2 separate regions of the Homo sapiens genome follow, and region 1 is linked to region 2. Evidence: fine-mapped expression QTL. A gene starts in region 2. The other region holds a variant in brackets. All regions are shown on one strand. Distances are between the middles of the regions. Region 1 overlaps ERVK3-1 (endogenous retrovirus group K3 member 1). Region 2 holds the start of A1BG (alpha-1-B glycoprotein).

What was found. PIP is the estimated chance that this variant, and not a neighbour inherited with it, causes the effect. A credible set is the group of variants that fine-mapping cannot tell apart.
Region 1: its variant is the best candidate, but not a certain one, in a credible set for the expression of A1BG in whole blood (TOPMed, PIP 0.80).

What each region holds. Positions count from the first base shown.
Region 1 is chr19:58,316,130-58,321,497 of GRCh38, forward strand. ERVK3-1 (endogenous retrovirus group K3 member 1) reads left to right here. Exons shown (of 4, transcript NM_001396080.1): 4 at 1-683. The region is part of intron 2 of LOC105372480 (a long non-coding RNA gene); the gene reads right to left. It also overlaps the pseudogene LOC100887072. Among named protein-coding and RNA genes, the nearest start is that of ZSCAN22, 8.2 kb to the right of the region's middle. The variant G/C (reference allele first, on the strand shown) is at 2,895.
Region 2 is chr19:58,351,072-58,356,398 of GRCh38, forward strand. A1BG (alpha-1-B glycoprotein) reads right to left here and starts at 2,421. Exons shown (of 8, transcript NM_130786.4): 1 at 2,333-2,421; 2 at 2,221-2,256; 3 at 1,857-2,126; 4 at 1,212-1,484; 5 at 320-616. The coding sequence starts at 2,366. It overlaps ZNF497 (zinc finger protein 497), which reads right to left. Exons shown (of 3, transcript NM_198458.3): 3 at 3,286-5,327. The coding sequence ends at 5,068. It overlaps A1BG-AS1 (A1BG antisense RNA 1), which reads left to right and starts at 899. Exons shown (of 4, transcript NR_015380.2): 1 at 899-1,973; 2 at 2,308-2,403; 3 at 2,643-2,786; 4 at 3,298-4,112.

The sequences.
Region 1 (5,368 bases), 35 kb before region 2:
TTTCAGAAACCAGATATCCCTCTAAAACACACCCTGCTTCTGCTGCCTTCATTCCACTGCCCTGCCTTCCTCAGCCTGCTCTACACCACTACCTCCTCATGGTTCTCCTGCCTCCCGTTGCCCCCTTCATCACTCTCCACTCAGCATTGGGTAGAGAGGGTCTTTTACCCCTGACTGATGAGGCCACCCCTCTCTTTAAACCCTCCATCACTGCCCAGGCCATCAGAGTATGGTTGGCAAACTCTTCTGTAAAACACAAGCAGCAGGCTGGGCGCAGTGGCTCATGCCTGTAATCCCAGCATTTTGGGAGGCTGAGGCAGGCCTGAGGTTGGGCCTATGAGACCAGCCTGGCCAACATGGTGAAACCCTGTCTCTACTAAAAATACAAAAAATTAGCTGGGCGTGGTGATGCATGCCTGTAATCCCAGCTACTCGGGAGGCTGAGGCAGGTGAATCGCTTGTTCCCAGGACATAGAGATTGTGGTGAGCCAAGATCGTGCCTTTGCACTCCAGCCTGGGCAACGAGCGAAACTCTGTCTCAAAAACCAAACAAAAAACACACAAGCAGCAAATGTCAGCTTTGTAGGCTCAGAGAGAAAACCAAGAATGTTACAAAGGTACCTATCTAACAAGAGAAAAACATGTCCATACATTTTATTAATAAAATCCAAAACTTTGTTAAATGTAATTCATTCCTTAATGAGCAAAAAGCTTTTCACAGGAGGTTCCATTTTATAGATAGGAAACAGACCCCAAGGGAGGTGAGCAGCCCAGAATTACAGCAGAGAGTGGTGAAGATTTGATCCTAGATCTGACAGCCTCTACCATCATACTTGCCATTCTCAGCTTAGGAATAAGATGGGGAGGAAGGTGTGGGTAATGGGCAAATCAGGGCCCAAATAGTCTGTTCAGTACTCTTGTCTCGTGGGAAGGAACAAAAGGCCCCACATCTGCCCTTCCTCCTGGGAGTCTCTGTTAGGACCTGAATTCAGTACAGCAGGAATGATCAATTTTTCTCTTTAGAGCACTCACCCACTTGACATCTCACTTTGTTCTCACATAGTCCTCATAGAGGTATCCTGTGGCTGCTGTCCTTGAAGCCTGATAGCATGGAGCTGAGGCCTCAGACTATAACAGGGCACATAATTTTCATGAAGTTCAAGAAGAGGCTGGGCTGGGCGCGGTGGCTCATGCCTGTAGTCCTAGCACTTTGGGAGGCCAAGGAGGGTAGATCACCTGAGGTCAGGAATTCGAGACCAGCCTGGCTGACGTGGCAAAACCCTGTCTCTACTAAAAATACAAAAATTATCCTGGCATGGTGGCAGGTGCCTATAATCCCAGCTACTCGGGAGGCTGAGGCAGGAGAAGCGCTTGAATCCGGGGGGCAGAGCTTCCAATGAGCCAAGATTGCACTATTTCACCCCAGCCTGGACAAAAGAGGAAAACTACGTCTTAAAAAAAAAAAAAAAAAATTAGGCTGGGACACCTTTCCTGGAAGGGCTACTTACTACAGGGGAGCTGTCTAAGGTGCTGAAATGTCCTAGCCCTGCGCTGTCCAATATGGTAGTTATGATTAAATTCAAATAAAATTACAAGTTCCATGTCCCAGTCACACCAGCTATGTTTCCAGTACTCAGGAGCTACCTGACACTGATGGTGCCATATTGGACAGCACAACTCCAGAACTTTTCCATCCTCACAGAACATTCTAGAATTTAATTTGAATGCTAGTTACACAGGGCTGTGCATTTACCAAATTCACTAAGCTGAGCACTTGTAATTCTGTAAAACATGTATATGTATTTTTGAAAGCACAAAGTTTCACGTCCCCGCCTGCCAGTCACTTTACCAAACAACCTTTGGTTTAACTTCTCTGTGCCCCAGTTTCCCAACCTGTAAAAGAGAGTAATGATACCTCCCCTTTGATTGGTTGAGAGTACCACCAAAGGTGTTTGCTGGGTGGCCTGACCTGCAGGAGGTGCTCAGGAAAGGGGAGCTGCTGCTGTCATTTGGTGGAAGTGGGTCCCCTTATCTGGCTAGCAGATGCCTTGAGTTATGGTGAGTATGATGGGGACAGACTCCCAGGAGGATGGAATGGCATCACTCTGTGGAAAGACTGTGAAACAGAACACGAACACCTCATGGCATCTTTGCTGCCTAGAGCCATGCCACTTGCACACCCTCCTTCTGCTCCTGACTCCCAGGAAGGCAAGGGGGTCACTGGGCTTGGGGCTCCACAGAAAGAGGCTTCCTGATTTGATGCTTAAGAGCTGTGCCTCAGACGCCTGCCTCTAAAACAGAAAGCCGTCCACACAGACACCCCACCTCATCTGGGTACCTCCTCTGGACCTAGGCTGGGTCCCCACAGGCAGCCACAGCCATCTATGCTGCTGCCCCCACACTGCCTCTGGCTGTGGGCTTCTCGAGGGCTTGCTGTGTGATGCTGAGTTCCTTAACGTGGAGACAATGTGTTGGAGTGTGGCAGTGTTCAGGCCCTGCTAGCCAAATAAGGGGACCCACTTCCACCAAATGACAGCAGCAGCTCCCCTTTCCTGAGCACCTCCTGCAGGTCAGGCTGCTCAGCAAACACCTTTGATGGTACTCTCAACCAATCAAAGGGGAGCTATCATCATTACCCTCTTTTACAGGTTGGGAAACTGGGGCACAGAAAAGTTAAACCAAAGGTTGTTTGGTAAGTGACTGGCAGGCAGAGATGTGAAACTTTGTGCTTTCAAAAATACATGTATATTTTTTACAGACGTACATGTGCTCAGCTTAGTGAGGAAACTAGGAAACAGGCCCAGAGCTGGGATATGGTCAGTCAGTGGCATGAAGAGCCGAGAGTGGAGCCTGGCAGGAATTTCCAGCTGGCATCCATTTGTTACTGAATATCA[G/C]GGCACTCCCCCAGAGACACAAGCCACCCCTAACCACATTCTGGAAAACGATCTCACGTGTGTTTCCGTCCTAGATCAGGGGTGCTCCTGCCAAGGAGAGGGTGTATGTGGGGAGGCCTGCAGCTGTTTCCCAGACCTTAATCAGCCACAAGGAGTCCACGCTGGGGAGGGTGTACTGCCATGTAGTGGGTGGGAAGATACCTTTGGCAAGAACACGTGCCTTGTGAGCTATCAGCAGATTCCCAACAAAAGGAGACCCTGTACGTGCGAAGAGTGTGGCAAGGCCTTTGGACAGAGAAGTCACCTTGTTCAGCACACCAGTGAGAAGCTGTATGCATGCCAGGAATGTGGGTGTACCTTCAGCAACAATTCATCTCTAGTCAAGCACTGGCACGTCCACACAGGCGAGAAGCCCTACATGTGTGGCCACTGTGGCAAGTGCTTCCGAGAGAGCTCATCCCTTGCCAAGCACCAGCGTGTGCACACAGGTGAGAAGCCATACGTGTGTGGTGAGTGTGGACGCACCTTCAGCGAGAGCACACACCTTGTACAGCACTGGTGATTCCACACCGGGGAAAAGCCATTTGCCTGCCAAGAGCAGCAAAGCCTTTGCTGACTTCTCGGCCCTCCTTGCATGCCACGGAACCTACACGGGTGAGAGGCCCTACGAGTGCCGGGTATGCTGCAAGGCATTCAGCCCCAGCTTGTCCCTGGCTGAGCACATACGCTGCCACACGGGAGAGAAGCTGTATGCGTGTCAGGAATGTGGGAAAGCTTTCAGCCACAGCTCATCCCTCAGCAAGCACCAGCAGGTACACACAGGTGAGTGGCCCTATGTGTGTGCAGAATGTGGAAAGGCCTTCAGCCAGGGGTCCTACCTGACCCAGCACCTCAAGATCCACAGCGGTGAGAAGCCGTACATACGTGGTGAGTAAAGGAAGCCATTCGGTGACTCCTCAGCCCTGGTCCTACACCAGCGGGTGCACACAGGCGAGCATCCTTATGCATGTGGAAAATGTGGGAAGACTTTCAGCCACAGCAAGTTTCTCACCCAGCATGAGCAAGTCCGCATGGGAGAGAAGCCCTTCATGTGTGGTGACTGTGGAAGAGCCTTCATGCAAACCTCATCCCTCGCCCTCCATCAGAGGACTCACAATGGGGAGAAGCCCTACAAGTGGAATGAGTGTGGCAAGTCCTGCATCCAGATGTCACACCTCACCGAGTATTACCAGGTACACGCTGGGGAACGACCCTTTCAGCCGTGGCACACACCTCACGCAGCACCAGCATGTGCATGCATGTACCAAGCCATTCATATGCCATATATGTCAGAAAACCTTCCAGGAGGCCACAACTCTTGTACTACATGAGAGGATTCCCTGGAGAGAAGCCCTTTTGAGTGTTGTGAGTGTGGCAAAGCCTTCCGCCAAAGCAGATTCCTGGCCCAGCACCAGAGAATTCATTCCCAGGGAAAACCATGTGAATACATGGATATCAGAAAGCCCTCAGTGACGCTTTGGTTCTTGTATGTCAGTGAACTGGGCATGTGCCAAATATGGCAGAGATCTTCCCATCTATCCTTGGTGTGTTGTCCTTTGCACCGGGGTGGCAGGTGAAGAGGGACTGTGAGTGTGAGGAAATCAGGGTCAGTGTGAGAAGCCCCTATTATACATTTCTCCCTTCAGGGTCACCGGGGCGGGTGAGGAAGCTGGGAGTGGGCCTAGGATATGTCTTTCAGATGTCACATGGAGATACTTCTCCATAATTATCAAGGGGCACAATGGCCACTTCCACTTTAATTAGATTCCCATGGATGCTAACCAAGTGGTAGGAGGTACACAGGTATGAACAGGTTTCCTCTCAGCAGTCCTAGAAGACTTTATTTCAGTTTTTGCCAAGACAAAAATGAAATTTAAAAAATGTGGGTTTTTTTGTTTTTTGTTTTTTTGTTTTTTTGAGACGGAGTCTTGCTTTGTCGCCCAGGCTAGAGTGCAGTGGCGCAATCTCGGCTCACTGCCAACCTCCGCCTCCTGGGTTCAAGTGATTCTCCTGCCTCATCCTCCCGAGTAGCTGGGATTACAGGCCCCCGCCACCAAACCCAGCTTTTTGTATTTTTAGTAGAGATGGGGTTTCACCATCTTGGCCAGGCTGATCTTGAACTCCTGACCTCGTGATCCACCCACCTCGGCCTCCCAAAGTGTTGGGATTACAGGCATGAGCCACTGCGCCCGCCCAAAAAAATACATATTTTTAAAAGATGCTTTTGCAGTTGTTTGTGCCTTGTATTAAGGTAGACCATATAGTTTGGGGTTTTATTGCCCAGAACCAAAAAGGTAAAATTTATATGCTGAAGTGTGTGTCACAGAGTCTAGCTCTTTAAGAAGAAAATTTTGTGTGTTCCTCAGCTTCAGCATGAGGACGTCACTAAAACTAGTTGAGACAGTGATGATGTTCGTTAAGATTTTACTGAGCAC
Region 2 (5,327 bases):
CAAGGCAAGCGAGCGGAGGAGCTGCCTCAGCAGAGGCCCTCAGTGCTCACCTAGACCTGGCAGCTGGGATGGGACCTGCCAGGTGGTGCCCCCTGTGGCCTGGGCCAGACCTGTTCACCCAGTTATTCCCTGTGGGGCCTGAAGGTTGTCACGCTCATCATCATATTTGCAGTTTAGGACCCTGAATCGGCGGGTGGGCGGATAAAGTTGGTATTGGACCCTGGCCCAGAGCACTGCACTTCCCCAGACTCTACACCTGGTACTGCTCCTGCTCCCCAGGGACCCAGCCGCGTCCCTGTCCCTGCTGGCCCCGGCTCACCATCGCTCAGAATCAGCTCGACCGGCGCGCTGTCCCCGGACCAGCCGTTTTGGTTGTCATGCAGCCGGTAGCGGCAGGTGTAGTGACCTCCATCCCCCAGGGCCACCGCGTTCAGGTGAAAGAAGATGCGATCTGGGCTGGTGCTGCTCCTGGGTACCAGCAGCTCTTTCTCCCCGCGCCGTAGCTGGAAGTCCACTCCACTCAGGGGAGCCACGCAGGTGAGGGTCACCTTGTTGCCAGGGTGCAGGACCTGGGAGGACTCTCCATGGTGCATCAGCACAGGCGGTGGTGGTGCAGCTGCAATGCAGGCAGCATTACTAGGCTGCCCCATCCCTGGAGCTGCCCTCTGCCCAGTCCCCAGACCTCTGCCCTCCGGGTGGCAATCCCAGGAACACCCTTCCATTCTTTTTTTTTTTTTTTTTTGAAACGGAGTTTCGCTCTTGTTGCCCAGGCTGGAGTGCAGTGGCGCCACTCAGCTCACTGCAAGCTCTGCCTCCCAGGTTCAAGGGATTCTCCTGCCTCAGCCTCCTGAGTAGCTGGTACTACAGGCACCTGCCACCACACCTGGCTAATTTTTGTATTTTTAGTAGAGACGGGGTTTCGTCATGTTGGGTAGACTGGTCTCGATCTCTTGACCTCATGATCCGCTGGCCTCAGCCTCCCAAAGTGCTGGGATTATAGGCGTGAGCCACCGCACCCGGCCTCACCCTTCCATTCTTTGGGCATCCTCTGCCCAAACTCCTTTGCAACCATCAGACCCAGGCAACCGTGTGGCCAGCTTCCTGGACCTGGTCCTGGGCAAGGACATTCAGCATGGAGGTCAGGATGAATGTGGTCATGCCCCCTGTATCCTCCTCCCCCAGCAGCCCCCAGAGATGGTTCCCACAGTCACCGAGCTCCTCAATGGTCACAGTAGCGCTGGGCTCAGAGAGGGCGCCTTCCCCATCGGTCCGGTAGCTGCAGCTGTAGTTGCCAGGCTGATGGACTGGAAAGGTGGCCTCCACATCCTCCTGGGCCTCAGGCACCTCCAGAAACTCATGGTCGCCCTCCCGCCTCAGCAGAAAAGTCACACCCCGCAGCACACCTCGGCACACTGCTGTTGTTTTCAGGCCGGGGGTGATCCAGGACACTGGCGCCATCGAGAGCCAGGGAGCAGGCAAGGACTCTGTGGGTGGGGTGGAGTTGAAGAGTGCTTCTGCATAACAGGAGACGTGGGAAGCCCAGCAGAACCTGGGCCCCACACTCATAAGACTGTGAAGGAGACAGGGATGGAGGGCATTGCTGGGAAAAGGCAGGCAGGCACCAGTGGAAACAAGGCATACGGCAAGAGAAAAAGAGTGTGTGGGAGCTGTACGGCATGCCGGGCCTGCTGGGGACACAACCATGTATTCCTTACAACACAGACATCATCCCCATTTGACAGATGGGAAGATTGGGGCTTGGGGCTCAGAGACATCGGGTGACTTGGAGGAAGGGAGACCCCCCAGTCAACAACCTACCCACTGCCTCCTGGCCCCCAATTCATGCCCCGGCTCACTTGGCCCTGTCAGCTCCAGGAGCTTGCTCAGCTGGGTCCATCCTGTGGACAAGCCCGAGCGGCAGCGGTAGCGGCCCTGGGTGTCACCCGTCAGCAGGAACTGGTGCTTGATGGCAGGTGAGTCAAGGTGCACAGGCTCCTGGGCCACCCCATTCTTGAACAGCTGGAAGTCTGGAGTCTCCAGGTGGGCCTGGCACGTCAGCGTCACATTGGCCAAGGGTTTCAGCAGTGATTCGGACTCTGCCCACAGGCTGGGCTGCGTCTCATAAACTGCAAGGGGTGGCTGGGATCAGCTCAGTGCCACAGAGACAGGGCTCCCCCCCGGCCTGGGCCCACCATTCCCAGACCTCACCCCTGCACTCACATATGGCTGCTTCTGTCACTGGGCCCCAGGTGACACCTGCGGAGACAGCCCCCGTAAGGCTCCTGTTCCCGCCCCCTCCCGCCCCAGGGACCCAGACCCCAGGAGGCCTCACCCCACAGCAAGAGAAAGACCACGAGCATGGACATGATGGTCGCGCTCACTCCGGTGCAGTGAGTGTCTGGGGTGAGCGTCTGCAGCAATGAGGCCCCAAGGGAGGGCGGTGGGGTGGCTCGGGCACTGACCTCTTCCCGTGTTTGTCCTTCCCGGAAGGCGGGGGCAGGGCCCCCATGGGGTCAGGGCAAAGGGTGAACTTCTGAGGCCTCAGGATGCCCAGCAACAATTATAATCAATAATCATGTATGATTAATAAACTAAATCAAGAGTGATAAAATGATGTTAAAACCACCTCATCCTCATTTCAGTGATGGATCCTAGAACCTGTTCTAGAAGGAGACGCTGAGTTCTCCCCACTCTACCTGGAGCTGCTGAGGTCAAGTGGAGAGTGCCGGGGCTGAAGCCCAGCGAGCCCCTCCCTGTCACACCACACTGCACATGTGACACCAAAGGTGGGGTTCACCTCTTTTCAGACTTTCTGCGGTTGCCCTCACATGGGCTGTCTGGAGGTGCACCCTCACTCTTCCTGAGGACTGTGGTTCCTTCTCCATCACTGGTTCATTCTGCATGGTGTGACCCACCACGGCTCTGGAGTCGGATTTCCACCCAGGTCATTCAGCTGAGACCTGCGCTTCCCAGGCCTACCCGTGACATGTGCTCAGTTACCTGAGCTGCTGGTGGTCACTCATGTGGCTATAGCCTGCTGCCTGGAGGCCAGGCCTCCCGCTTCCCCTGCCTCCCCCTCTCCTCACCACAGCCTGTTGGGATGGAACAGGACAGGGGTGAGACCGTGGTGCTTTCACACTCAGCCTCCATGGACATCCTGTCATTCCCACCCGGGGAGGTCTGGTCCCCACCCTGGGTGTCCCAGCCTAGCTCCGCTACGAGTGTGAGGGCCCAGGGCAACCGCCTAGCCCTCATCTGCCCCCTGCACTGCATCCTCCCCACTCATTCATTCCACAGGCATTTATTGAGCATCTACTGTGTGCCAGATGCAAAGAAGACAGTGGGATAACTGGGCAAGGAGCATTCCAGGCAGAGGGAACAGCCAGTGCAAACATGGGAGATGCGGGTGCAGTGAGAAGGAGCAGAGGAGACCAGGAGTTGAGGCGACTGCAGAGCGATTGCAGAGCTCATAGACGTGATGAAGACCAGCTGGGCACTGCAGCGGCTCTGGCTTCTGCTGTGAGGGACGGGGAGCTGTGGAGACTCCCTCTGTTTGGTCCCATTTCCATATTGCTGAGCACCTGCTGCATGCTCTCTGTCCTGCTCAGAGCCAGTACCTGGATGGAGGCTGTGTGTTCTGGGTGGACTGGGGGAGAATGCATTCTTTGCAGAAGAGACAACCAGGTGCTGAGGCCTGAAGTCATAACCAGACCTGGGGCACTCAGACAAGGACTGGTGGCCAGGCCAGAGGAGCAGAGCTCAGGGTGTGCACAGAACTCAGAAGTCAGACCACTGAACAGTGACAGAACCTTTCAGCCCATTGGCAATGAGGCTGCCCAGGCAGCCAGAGGCCTGGTCAAATCTGAGGTCTGCAGAGATGGAGCTGTCATTCTGTGTTTCCTTTGGCAGTCCCAACACCAGCCTCGTTGCACCCTCCTCTTAGCTTCCCTGGGTTCTCCAGCCCTAAGGGTGGTAGCAGCTTCCTGCAAGTATCCAGCTCTGAGATTCTGCAACATCCACTTTTGCTCTCTGAGCCTTGCAAAACCTGCACAATCAGTCCCTAACTTATATCCCCTCTGTTTGAAATACCTAGTGTGGTTTCTATTTCCTGACTTGACTCTGACTGGTGTGGTACTTGGTATAAAGAAGGTTCCCTGGCCAGGTGCGGTGGCTCACGCCTATAATCCCAACGCTTTGGGAGGCTGAGGCAGGAGGATCACTTGAGCCCAGGAGTTTTGAGACCCGCCTAGGCAACATGGTGAGACACTGTCCTTACAAAAAATTTTAAAATTAGCCAGGTGTAGTGACGCAAGTCTGTCATCCCAGCTGCTTGGGAGGCTGAGGTGGGAGGATCACCTGAGCCTAAGAAGTCGCGGCTGCAATAAACAGTGATTGCACCACTGCACTCCAGCCTGGGTGACAGAGTGAAACCCTGCCCCCTCCCCCAAAAAAGAAAAGTCCCATGAAACAGACCTACACAGGTGAGATTCTGAGATTGATCTGGTTCTGACCTCGGTCAGGAATGCAGTGCTGAGCTTCTTGCCAACAGAATATGAGACACTAGAAAGCCATAGCATGCGGTTTCATCATGTTTAACTGTCACCTGTGGTTGCCTGAGATGAAGTGCTGACTGAAGCGAGCACCTTAGGAGACACAGTGGCCACTGCACTGAGCAGCTGGTAGCAGCAGTGGTGACCATGTGGACTGGGGGGTGGGTTGGCTGCTTTTGACAGTGCCAGAGAACTCAAAGAAATAGCCACACCTGTCGGAGACCCCAGTTCTTGCCCACCTCTGCATGGACGAACCTCTCGCCGAAGTGGAGCCTGCCGCCCTCCCTGGGGTAAGAGCCCATCCTACATGTCCCCAGACAGGCCTGGGTGGCCGGTGGACTATCGTCAAAGGGACTGTGCAGCCAGGGTTCTCCACACCCAAGGCCGCCCCTGCACTCCCAGCAGGAGGGCGCCCGCACCGGCGGCCCGAAAAAGTCTGGGCCAGCAGACAGCGCACTCACGCCCGAGACCCCGCAATGCCGTGTGTCCGCGACCTCCCGCTCAGGGCGTCCTCGGGTCAGGGCGCAGCGCGGCCCCCGTGCCGCTTCTGGTGCTCGTTGAGGTTGCAACGGTGGCTGAAAGGCTTCCCGCACTCGCCGCAAGCGTAGGGCCTCTCGCCCGTGTGCGTGCGCCGGTGGCTTAAGAGCTCCGACTTGCGCACGAAGGCCTTGCTGCAGTGGGCGCAGACGAACGGCCTCTCGCCAGAGTGCAGGCGCTGGTGCTGGCGCAGCTCGGAGCTGCCGCGGAAGGCCTTGCCGCATTCTGCGCAGGCGAAGG